Homo sapiens: one gene and its partners. The protein of the gene in region 2 purifies or fractionates together with the protein of the main gene of each other region. This does not show direct contact. Each region holds a gene or a part of one and is shown on either strand. Other genes may lie near its edges.

The links.
Region 1: the proteins of OPTC (region 2) and AKAP1 purify together in Homo sapiens (affinity purification with mass spectrometry; one large-scale study listed by BioGRID and IntAct). This does not show direct contact.
Region 3: the proteins of OPTC (region 2) and ITIH2 purify together in Homo sapiens (affinity purification with mass spectrometry; one large-scale study listed by BioGRID and IntAct). This does not show direct contact.

The regions. Positions count from the first base shown.
Region 1 is NC_000017.11:57,088,059-57,091,790, forward strand, and holds part of AKAP1 (A-kinase anchor protein 1, mitochondrial precursor), read left to right. Parts: intron 1-3,732.
Region 2 is NC_000001.11:203,503,974-203,506,853, reverse strand, and holds part of OPTC (opticin precursor), read right to left. Parts: exon of another isoform or gene 2,801-2,880; intron 2,576-2,800; exon of another isoform or gene 1-2,575. UniProt on the Homo sapiens protein: Inhibits angiogenesis in the vitreous humor of the eye, and therefore represses neovascularization. Binds collagen fibrils.
Region 3 is NC_000010.11:7,706,316-7,709,815, reverse strand, and holds part of ITIH2 (inter-alpha-trypsin inhibitor heavy chain H2 precursor), read right to left. Parts: intron 2,616-3,500; coding exon 2,583-2,615; intron 795-2,582; coding exon 625-794; intron 1-624. UniProt on the Homo sapiens protein: May act as a carrier of hyaluronan in serum or as a binding protein between hyaluronan and other matrix protein, including those on cell surfaces in tissues to regulate the localization, synthesis and degradation of hyaluronan which are essential to cells undergoing biological processes.

The DNA of each region.
Region 1 (3,732 bases), on a different chromosome or scaffold from region 2:
TCCTGTGGGCATCTTGTCCCATTGAAATCATCTCATATACTGTTTGAGAGTTGCTCATCTTTATGGTGGGGGGTGTATTTTAGTCCTAAATCTTGCTTCTTAGGGCAAGTTCTGTTTCTTCCATGTTCCTTCCTGGTGTAATACCTCAGGCAGTTTTCACTTTTATGATCATTTAACATTAAGTTCCCATCACATGTGGCATCCCACTGAAGGAACCTCCTGGCCTTGGTACCTAATTTGAAGCTTGGGCTGTGGAAAACATCATCAGTGAGCATGTTTGAAGTAGGACAGAGTCTGGCTGGAGAAACAGGTAGTGGGGGAGCTGGGAGCTAAACTTGAGAGGATGCCTCTTTCTTGATAGTTACTGTGCTAGGTGAGTTATGAGCACACTAATCCTTTAATCCTCACACCTCTGAGAACAGTGAGGGTGAAGCTGGAGGTCATTCTGGATTGTTTCAGTGGCTGTCACACAAATTCAAATTGAGGGGTAGAGGAACTAGGAAGCGTGGGTGTGGAGTTAAAACTAGGTCCTCTGGATGGCTTTTGTGAGAAGAACCAAGGAATATTCTTAAATCCCTGGGCTTTTCTCCTAATCTTTCTGCTGCTTTCTAAGTAGATTGTTAACATTGTGTGTGTTATCATTCAGCATTCTGAGAACTAGCTTTCCAGCAATAAATAGCTTTCAAGGTGTCCTTTGCCTTAACTTTTTCATTTTACTAAATGGTGCAGCCTTGTCCACATTCTGTCCGGGTCTTCACCATCTGGTTGTTTTTCCGGCTTGGTTTGATAGTTTGCAGCAGTCAGTGGTAAACATTGTGTTCCCTGTTCTGTAATGGTGGCTGGTTGTGTTCACCGAGCCAGGTGTCACTAAGGCCCAGTTGCACTTGGGAGCAAAGAAGGGCCCTGAGGTGAGTCCTGGAAGTAAAAATATGTATAACCTAGGGCTGATGAGGCTTGTTTCACTGCTGGGCTTAGCTGACAAGAGCCTGGGACTTGCTGCAGCTCTCAGAGCTGAAACCTGGCGGTGATTCTAGGCAGGCTGGTTGGCCTTCCAGATCTTGGTTTATTCAGTGGCTAAAAGAGGTTTGGTCAAAATTATCAGTATTCAGATTATGGTCCTGGGAGCCTTGGAGTTAGACCAAACGTGCCCAGGGGCCACTGGAGTGATGTGTTTGGGCTGGGGAGCACAGCTCAATGGGTAGTACATGTCAAAGACTTAAGGGGAAAAAAAACAACTCACTGTTCATCTCAAGTTCTTAGCTCTAAGGTGTGCTACTGTTCTAAATATTTTTTATTTTTAAAGATAGCTTTATTTGCCTAAATTTGTCCTGGGTGTGGGGAGTTTAGAGCTGCCTTGTCTGTAGGGTAGCTGCTAGCTGTGTGACTAATTAAACTTTTCAAAGTATTTTTAAAAAAATTTCTTAGTGACATTAGCCACATTTCAGGTTCTCAGTGGCCTCGTGTAGCTAGTGGCTGCCGTCCTGGTCAGTACAGGTCAAGAACATTTTCCATAATCGAAGAAAGTTTTGTTGGACAGCGCCGGCCTAGAAAGTTTTTTTTTCTCCAACTCTAAAAGCTTAATTGTCTCAACTTGTAAATCTCTAAAGCATAACATGTTTGAGCTTAGTCTTCCAGAGTCCATAAACCCAACAGCTTTGGTGACAAATTATCTACTGGTTGTCTCCATGGCATACTACAAGTGAGTTCTAGTCTGCCAGTTGGGAGTGGACGAACAGTTTTGAAACAGTTTGAGTGAGGACCTTCAGAAAGGACCTGGGGACAGGAGCGTGAAGCAAAGGTCCAGATGCTAAGCCCTTAGAAAGCCCTTTTGGTTTGAAGCCGTTTATTATCATAAAGATCCCTGCTGGTTTGTCCTTGGTCTCCAAATGTCAGATGTCAACATATTGTTACTTGGTCCTTCACCCACCTGATGACTTCCTACAGATCTCAGTGCGGCCCTTCTCTTAAACGAGGTTGTGTTTTCATTCTGCTGTTTCCAGTCCACCTAAATGTTAGGGGCCATTCTTCACAGAAGGTGTTGGGGGAGAGTGGGGCCACAGCGTGGATGCTAACGTGTTCTGTTGTGGCAGGGGTGGGGAGTTCTTTGTTTCCAGATGCCCCCTCTTCTAGTCCTGGGTGTGCTTTGTTTGAACCCTGCTAGATTGACCTTTGGTATATATAATGTGAGATCTCTTTTCTTGGAGCCAGGCAGCATAAAGGACACTTACTGATGAGCACCTACTGGCATATTAGTGGCTTTTTTTTTTCTGTGTCATTTTTATTCTCTGTCAGCCCTATGAGGTTAGTACAGTGATTAGTTTGTGGGTGAAGAAACAAGATCCGAGTAGAGTAAACTGGTCCCTGGACACAGCAAGGGCTGGACTGGCTTGGACCTGGGCTGGGGCGTGCTCCCCACCTCCTCCTCTGCCCCTGCCGCCCCCCATGCTCATTGGTTGTTGCTTATTTACTGCCCCTTTATCACCACATCCTCATTCAGGAAACTAAACTGGGTTTTACAAAGATTAAAATCATTGATCCCACATATGGAGTCTGACTTAAGTGTGTTCAGCCTCGTTACAACTCTGTGAGGGAGATATTCCCTATTACAGAACATCTTCATTTTATGGGAAACTGAAGTACAGGATCCTACTCTTAACTCTCTTGTCTTTCCAAAGCCATATTTTATCATCAGAATTATGCAACCATCGGGTGCTTTTGAAATGCACAAGTAATGACTATGAATAAAAAAAGCTGTGCCTGAGGGCTCAGGGAAACTGCTCTGAAGACTGAGCTGATTGAAAAAGACAATCCTGAAGTCACTAATTTCCCGACACCTGTCAGACCTCACTTGGAGGTCACAGACCATCTCCTGGCCCTCCAAAGGCTGTCACCCAGCAGTAGCTGGCCTCCTGATTAGAGGAGGCAGTAAGATCTTTTCAAGCACAGCCCCAGCCCCCATCCCTTCTCTGGCCTGGGCCTGGATGTGCCTTTGTGAGGTTGGGTCGATGACAGATCTGAAGGACAGTTCAGTCTTCTGTACACTCCTTCTTGCCCCTCCTTTCTGCCACTCCCAAGAAAAAGGAGCAGGAGTGATTCTCACTTTCCTGAACTGCCTTGGAGGGAGACCCACACTCAGCTGTGCCTTTAGCTGTCTCTGGGAGAAAAGGCCGTGCTGCAAATAACCTCCCTGCTTTGTCCTTTGGCTTTGGTGTGGCTCACCTGGCCAAGCATGTGCTGGTGCTATTTTTAGCAGGTGGCATCCTTTAGGAGGGCCAAGTGCATGTGGCTGCAGTGTACGGGACAGGTCCTGGTGCCAAAGCTGCTGCTGTCTCTGCTGCCACCGCCTCGTCAGGAGAGAGAGGAGAATAAAGCCACCCTGGAAGCTGCCAAGGGGTGTGTGGAGGGGGTGGCTGCTTAAGAGGTCTCCAGGGCTGCCTTTTCTATTCTGGATCTGTGGCAGGGGCCCAGCCTGCCTCCTGGTGCAGGCAGGCATGTGACTGAGGCAGCCCGGGGAGCTGGGGAGCTGGGGAGCTAGGTGTCAGACTGCTGCCTGGGGAGTGAGGACCCCTTGTTGCCCCAGCAGGCAATTTTTCAGGAAACCACATAACCCCATTAAAAACATTATTTATTTATTTATTTATTTATTTAGAGATGAGGTCTTGCTTTGTCACCCAGGCTAGAGTACAGTGGCTCGATCATAGCTCACTGCTGCCTTGAATTCCTGGGTTCAAG
Region 2 (2,880 bases):
GAGTGTGGCAGAGAGCAGGACTTCAGACTCTGGCTGGATGGACCCCGGATTGAATCCTAGCTCTGCCACTCTCTTGCTGTTTGGGTTTGGGCCTCTCCCCTTTCAGAAGCCTGTTTCTTCATCTGCAGTCTGAAGATGAGCATCCCTACTCACTAGGGTTTTTGCTGGAATTAAATGAGTTGATGCACAGAAAAGCTTCTATTATAGGTCTGGCAAACTCCAGGAGTCCAGGGATTGTTAGATCTCCTGTCCCACAATAGAGCAGGAGCCAGGTGACTTTCTGTATTCAGCAAAGAGTAACCGAGAGGCATGTGGGAATGATGTGGCTTCCAGTACCCAAAAGCCCCAGTTCTGGAAAACCTTTTTTTTTTTTAATTAGATTTTTGAAAAAATTGGATTCCTCGGCCAGGAGTGGTGGCTCACACCTGTAATTCCAACACTTCGGGAGGCCGAGGCGGGCAGATCACCCGAGGTCAGGAGTTCGAGACCAGCCTGACCAACATGGAGAAACCCTGTCTCTACTTAAAGTACAAAATTAGCCAGGTGTGGTGGCGCATGCCTGTAATCCCAGCTACTCAGGAGGCTGAGGCAGGAGAATTGCTTGAATCCGGGAGGCAGAGGTTGTGGTGAGCCAAGATCACGCCATTGCACTCCCCCCTGGGCAACAAGAGTGAAACTCCATCTCAAAAAAAAAAAAAAAAGAAAAAAGAAAATTGGATTCCTCAATCCAGGATCTCTTGCATTTGGAGAACTTTAGGCTTTCAGCTGTTGCATGCCTAGGCCTTGTCATAATCCAATAAAGCAGGATATGGAACGGGATATTGGATATGGAAGGGGATAGGATTGGTGGATGAAACAGAGAAAGGGAGAGAGAGACAGAAAACACACACACACACACACACTCTGAGAGAGAGAGAGACACACACAGAGAGAGAGATTCCGCTGTAACAAACTCTTGGAAGACAGAAAGAGGAGGCAAAGGAGAGGAAGGGCCAGTGACAGCTCTGCTGCTCTGAAAGTCAAGGGGCCCTTGGCTCACTGCCTTCCCCGTCCTTCCCTGGGGCCAGGTGCGCTGGAATCCTAGATTCCCTGGGAGTGAGGGTAGGTACCATGACGGCATGAAGTCACCTCCCACCACCTTCAAGACTTCCCACTGCCAGTCTGTAGCCTGTGTGTTGAGTCCTGGTCCAACCCTGAGTCACCCGTGTGAACTGGGGTCAGTGATTGGTCTCTAGTTCTCCATCTCTCCATCTGAAGAATGTGAATAATAATTTCTGACTTGGCTGTTTACAGGACCGCCGTGAGGATCCAAGTGCACAGTGAGGTGGGGGGAGGCAGATACATGGATTCCTTTCCACGTGGCCCACAAGAAACACCTGTCCCTCCAGACTCGGGGACCACCAGGGACCTTGAATAGTTGCCTTGGCAACTCATTGCCTGGCTAACTCCCACTCCTTTGGGTTTCAGCTTAAACATCAGTTGTGCAAGATCTTCTGGACCCCTAAGTTGGGTCCTCCTCTTGTAAGCATTCATAGCATTCTCTACATACCCTTTACAGCACTTTTATGAGTTGAATAGCATGGTTATTGGTGTGCTTATTTGTTTCACACCTGTCTTTTGCACTAAATTCTAAGCTCTCTGAGGAAAAGGAATATGTTTCTGTTGCGTACCATCTTATCACCACGTAGCAGTGGGTGCTCCATAAGATCCTCCTGCGTGAGTAAGTGAATTCCCTGCCTCATCCCTCTCTCATGCCTTAGCATGAGGCCTGAGGCCAAGAGCCCGTCCATCACATACCCCTTGCCCAAAGCCTCCTTATAACGGTCAGGAGAAGGGTGGCATCTCCTCCTCTCCCTTCTAACTCAAGGAACAAATCACTGGCTACATGATAGTTGCCCTTCCTCCCATCCTTCCAGCATAGTAGCCCCTGCCCAGGATCCAAAAGGCAGAAGGTGAGTAATTGCTATTTTTATTTATCTTTGCACAAGGCTGCCCTCTGGTGGTCGAACATGTAGGAGCGAATGGGAAGGATGGAAACCCCAGTAGCCAGGAACCAGCCCAGCTGGCTGAGCCAACCACGCTCAAGAGACTGGCCAGCGAGCCAGGGAGTAGGTAAGTGCTACAAGAAGCGCATCTGGGTGAAGATTCGTGTCAGTTCTCCATCCTTATGAATGGCTCCCTCCAAATCTAACAGGAGGCCCTGGCCTCAGAAGAGCAGGAAATGAAGGAATGCCCTATAGAAATCTTACCTACCTCAGCCCCAGTAGGATGGTGTGCAGGTAGGGGGAGCTGGTTTAAGTAGCTATTCTTTCTCCTCAGTGGTATGCAGGCAAACATTTTACAGTCAGCTCTCAAAAAAGGAAATCCCAATTTGTAGTGTTTACCAATTTCTGTAGTGTAAATACCCCTACCATGGCCCATTTTAAACCACCGATATGATGTCACTGAATGAGGAGCTGGAAGAGATGCCCAGTAGCACACCATTATCTAGAGTTTCCCCCATACAGACACCATGGACAGAAATAACTTCAAGGGCACGATTAATAGTGAAATATAGTAAACTAATTGAAAATGATGATTTTTGAATAATTATTACATTTGTTTTCAATATAATATATTTAATTGTGAGTTTATATAATTTAATTTTTCATAATGGCTGTGTTTAACAACTGACTTGCAAAATTCTGGAAAATTTAGTAATCGGTTCCTGCAAGTAGTAAGAGCTGGCTCCAGCACATCACTGCTCTCCTCTTCCCCACTTCTTCCTTCTCTTCCTCCTCCCCCTCTTCCTCTCCCACAGCTTTCTTGGCATTCTGTGTGGGTGCAAGAGATGGGGAATATGGAAAAGAGCTCCACTGCAGACACTGCTATTTTCTGAGC
Region 3 (3,500 bases), on a different chromosome or scaffold from region 2:
TATGTATTTTGTAGAGAGCTTTTTAAAAATTCTATGTGATTATCACTAGAGTCATTGGGTAGAAAGTGGAAAATATTTGAAGTATAAGAAAGGACTCTTAACAGAGCTGTCAATCACTGAGTTGATTGCCTTGGGAAAAGTGAGTTTATCATCAAGGAAATCATCACACACTTGTCAGCGGTGTTATAGAGGAGGTCAAGCACTGGATAAGTAATTAGATTTAATCTGTGGTTCTCAACTTGTTTTTTTTTTCCCATAGAGAAACATATGGCAGATGGCATTGACCTGCTGTGCACACGCTCTTATGTGGTTTCCTATAAGCCAGGGCAACCCAGTATATTTTTCTCCTCCCTAGAAAGTATATTAAAATGCAAGTAAGTATGAGGTTGTTACCACAGAGATAGCCTTAAGTTTGCTTTAGCTTATTAGAAACAAAAAGCAAATAATTCACAAGTTCTAACGCTTTGAAGAGGAGAAAATTATTGGGACCAACCTCACAATGACCCTTGACATCCAGCCGGTCCTCTGGGACAGTTGACCACTAAAGTCCATTCTAACTATGAGGGGTTTTGATTCTGTGAGTAGAGCACCTACAATTTCTGGCTCTACACAGAAGTTACTCACATGGAGAAGTTGGAAATGAATGCTCCTTTGGGGATCTGAACATCAAACACGACATTCTGAGGCTGCGGGGAATTGTTCACCACTTTGCTCTGGATCATGGTGGTGGCCATCCGAGAAGTAATAGTAGACTGGACTTTATAGCTATAAAGAGTTACTTGATCAACCTCTTCCTGAAATTGGCAAGAAAGCATAACTGTACTGATAGAAAAATCACACAGAACTTCATCAAATGTAGTGCATTTGATGTTAACAACACTACATTTTACTTGTTTTACTAGCAGAACAATTCCAGGGCCTTGGTAAGGACAGAATTCATGTATGGTTAAGCATTCTCCTAACTTCTTGGAACCCGCAATGAGCAGAAGTCTGCCTTGGTTTCAAGATACTTTGAGCTAAAAGGCATTTTTCAGCCCTATGAGTCTATAAATAATGATTTTTCAAAAATTAGAATACAAGTAGAAAACGGTGTGGGAAGCCAGATTGGATTGAGGAAGTCCAGGTAATAACTCCAAATGCAAGACCATCAGCTGGGGAGAGGATACTGGATTGCGAGGTTGAAAGAGGAACTTGGTTGTATCTTTAGTAGGGGTCACACAGGGGTGCTGTGGGGTGGAAACACACATATGGCCTCCACCAACCCCCCCTTACAGCTCTCTACCTTCTTTAATCTCCTCTATTACAATTTCATCTGCAGTCCTTTTCTCCTCCCCCAAGTCAAAACAAGCTAGGAGAACAGTGACGGGTGTAAGCAAGAGACATTGATCTTGGACAGGGCATTCTGATGCAAGTATTGGTCCAACACTCTGGACCTCCTTACCCGATCACTACTGATTTAAAGCAGCTCCTGTGTGAAGAATCACATATGTAAGTGTGCTCAAAGGCAAGGTCCTAGAAACCCACACCTTTCAGGAGGTGACTGAGAGCTGCAAGCTCCTTCAGGTCTATGGACAACTATGAGACCCATTAGATTTTGCTTTTTTCTCCAAAAGAATTTACTTATCTCAATACCAGGTCTCATTCCCCAAACTTTGTAGTCCAACATTAAACCTTTCGACTAATTAACCATGCAACTCACCTCAAGCTAAAATAAAATCCAGGCTAATCTATGTGTCCTTCCTCCCCCTGAAGTGTGCACTTCTGGCAGTTTCTGCCAATTCAGGGCAGGAAGCACAACATAAGCCACTTGTCCTCAGGCTGTTTTCTTGCCACAGGATGGTCTACTCTGAACATCTCAGGGAACTGGGCCGTTTTGTGTTTAAAAGTTCCTTTCCACGGGCACTCTTTTATTTTCCAAAGCTGTCAGGTGTCATACTTTAAATCAAAATGGTGCTGGAAGCAATGGCTCATGCCTGTAATCCCAGCACTTTGGGAGGCTGAGGGAGGTGGATCACCCGAGGTCAGGAGTTCGAGACCAGCCTGGCCAACATGGTGAAACCCCATCTCTACTAAAAACACAAAAATTAGCTGGGCGAGGAGACATATGCCTGTAATCCCAGCTACTTGAGAGGCTGAGGCAGAGAATCTCTTGAACCCAGGGGGCAGAGGTTGCAGTGAGCTGAGATCATGCCATTGCACTCCAGCCTGGGCAACAAAAGTGAAACTCTGTCTCAAAAAAATAAAAATAAAAATGAAAACGTAAAAATAAATACATAAATCAAAAAGGTTGAGTAGGAATAAATACATAAATTTATACAGTGGGAAGGAACCTATGATATATGGCAAAACTCAAGAAAATGAAGAGAAGGGCCCCTTCAGCTCTTGGTGGCCTCTCTCCTGTCTGTAAAGACTGCACTCTTCAATGCTGAATTTTAGAAACACTTGCAAACAGTTGGGCAAGGCAGTATTTCGAAAGTCAGGTAAATACTCGGTGATGAAGAAAAAAGAGACACCCAGATTGATTTCCTGGTAATTATTAACAGGAAAATCATTCAATCTGTAACAACATCAAGTCAACTTACCATCATTTCTTCCGATTCTCCTGGAAGGCTTCTCTGTGAAAGGAAGTTAGACAATCATTCTTCAACTGTATGTCACTTATTACCTTGAGAGCCAAAACCGTTTTCTCAGTCAAAAAAGAAATTTTATTTTTCTTCAATACTGAGCTGTTATTCATTCACTGGAGTTGAGACATAAATATTGAATATTCTTGAAAACTATTTTCCCACTGGTGAGTTTCTCAATAAGTTTCTCAACCAGTTCTGGTGGCGTGTGTGTCATTCTTGGATATAATGCTAGAACAAGTAATTTTTAAATAAAAATATTCAACCAAATGCATCCTGGGTAGCGTATATCCCCTTGATGCTATTTGCTCTATTTTTTACTCAGTTGAATGGAGACTTTGATCCTCCATTCGGCCATGAGGCTGTGGGCATGCTGTTCCCACTGTTTGCAGTGCCCCTGCTAGGTTCCTCAACCCCCATATGGAGAACTCCTACTCACCCTTCAGATCTCAGCTCCAGCAGAATTCCTCCAGTGAAAATCTCTAACACCCCAAGACTAGGTCGGTTTCCTTTACTAAGTGTTTTTGCAGCAGCATATTCCTTCCTGCAGAGTGCTCACCTTGTTTCATAATGATTCATTCTATTTGAGGGATTATTTGACTAAAGTCTGTCTCTTCCTTTAAACTAAGCTACATAAAAGCAGGGATTTTCATGTATTTCCTCCACAGTGTAACCCCTGAGGCAAACACAGTGACTGGCACCTAGAAAATTCTATGCTTTTAACCACCATGCTAGGAGATTATCCATACACTTGACTGTCCTGAGGAAATGAACAAAGGCGATTCCCTTGCCTTTGAAAGTGAATGGCTTAAGGGTGGTGGGTGAACATGTAATGTTTGGTGAGCTGTTAATAATAGATCCAAGAAGTCGGGTGTT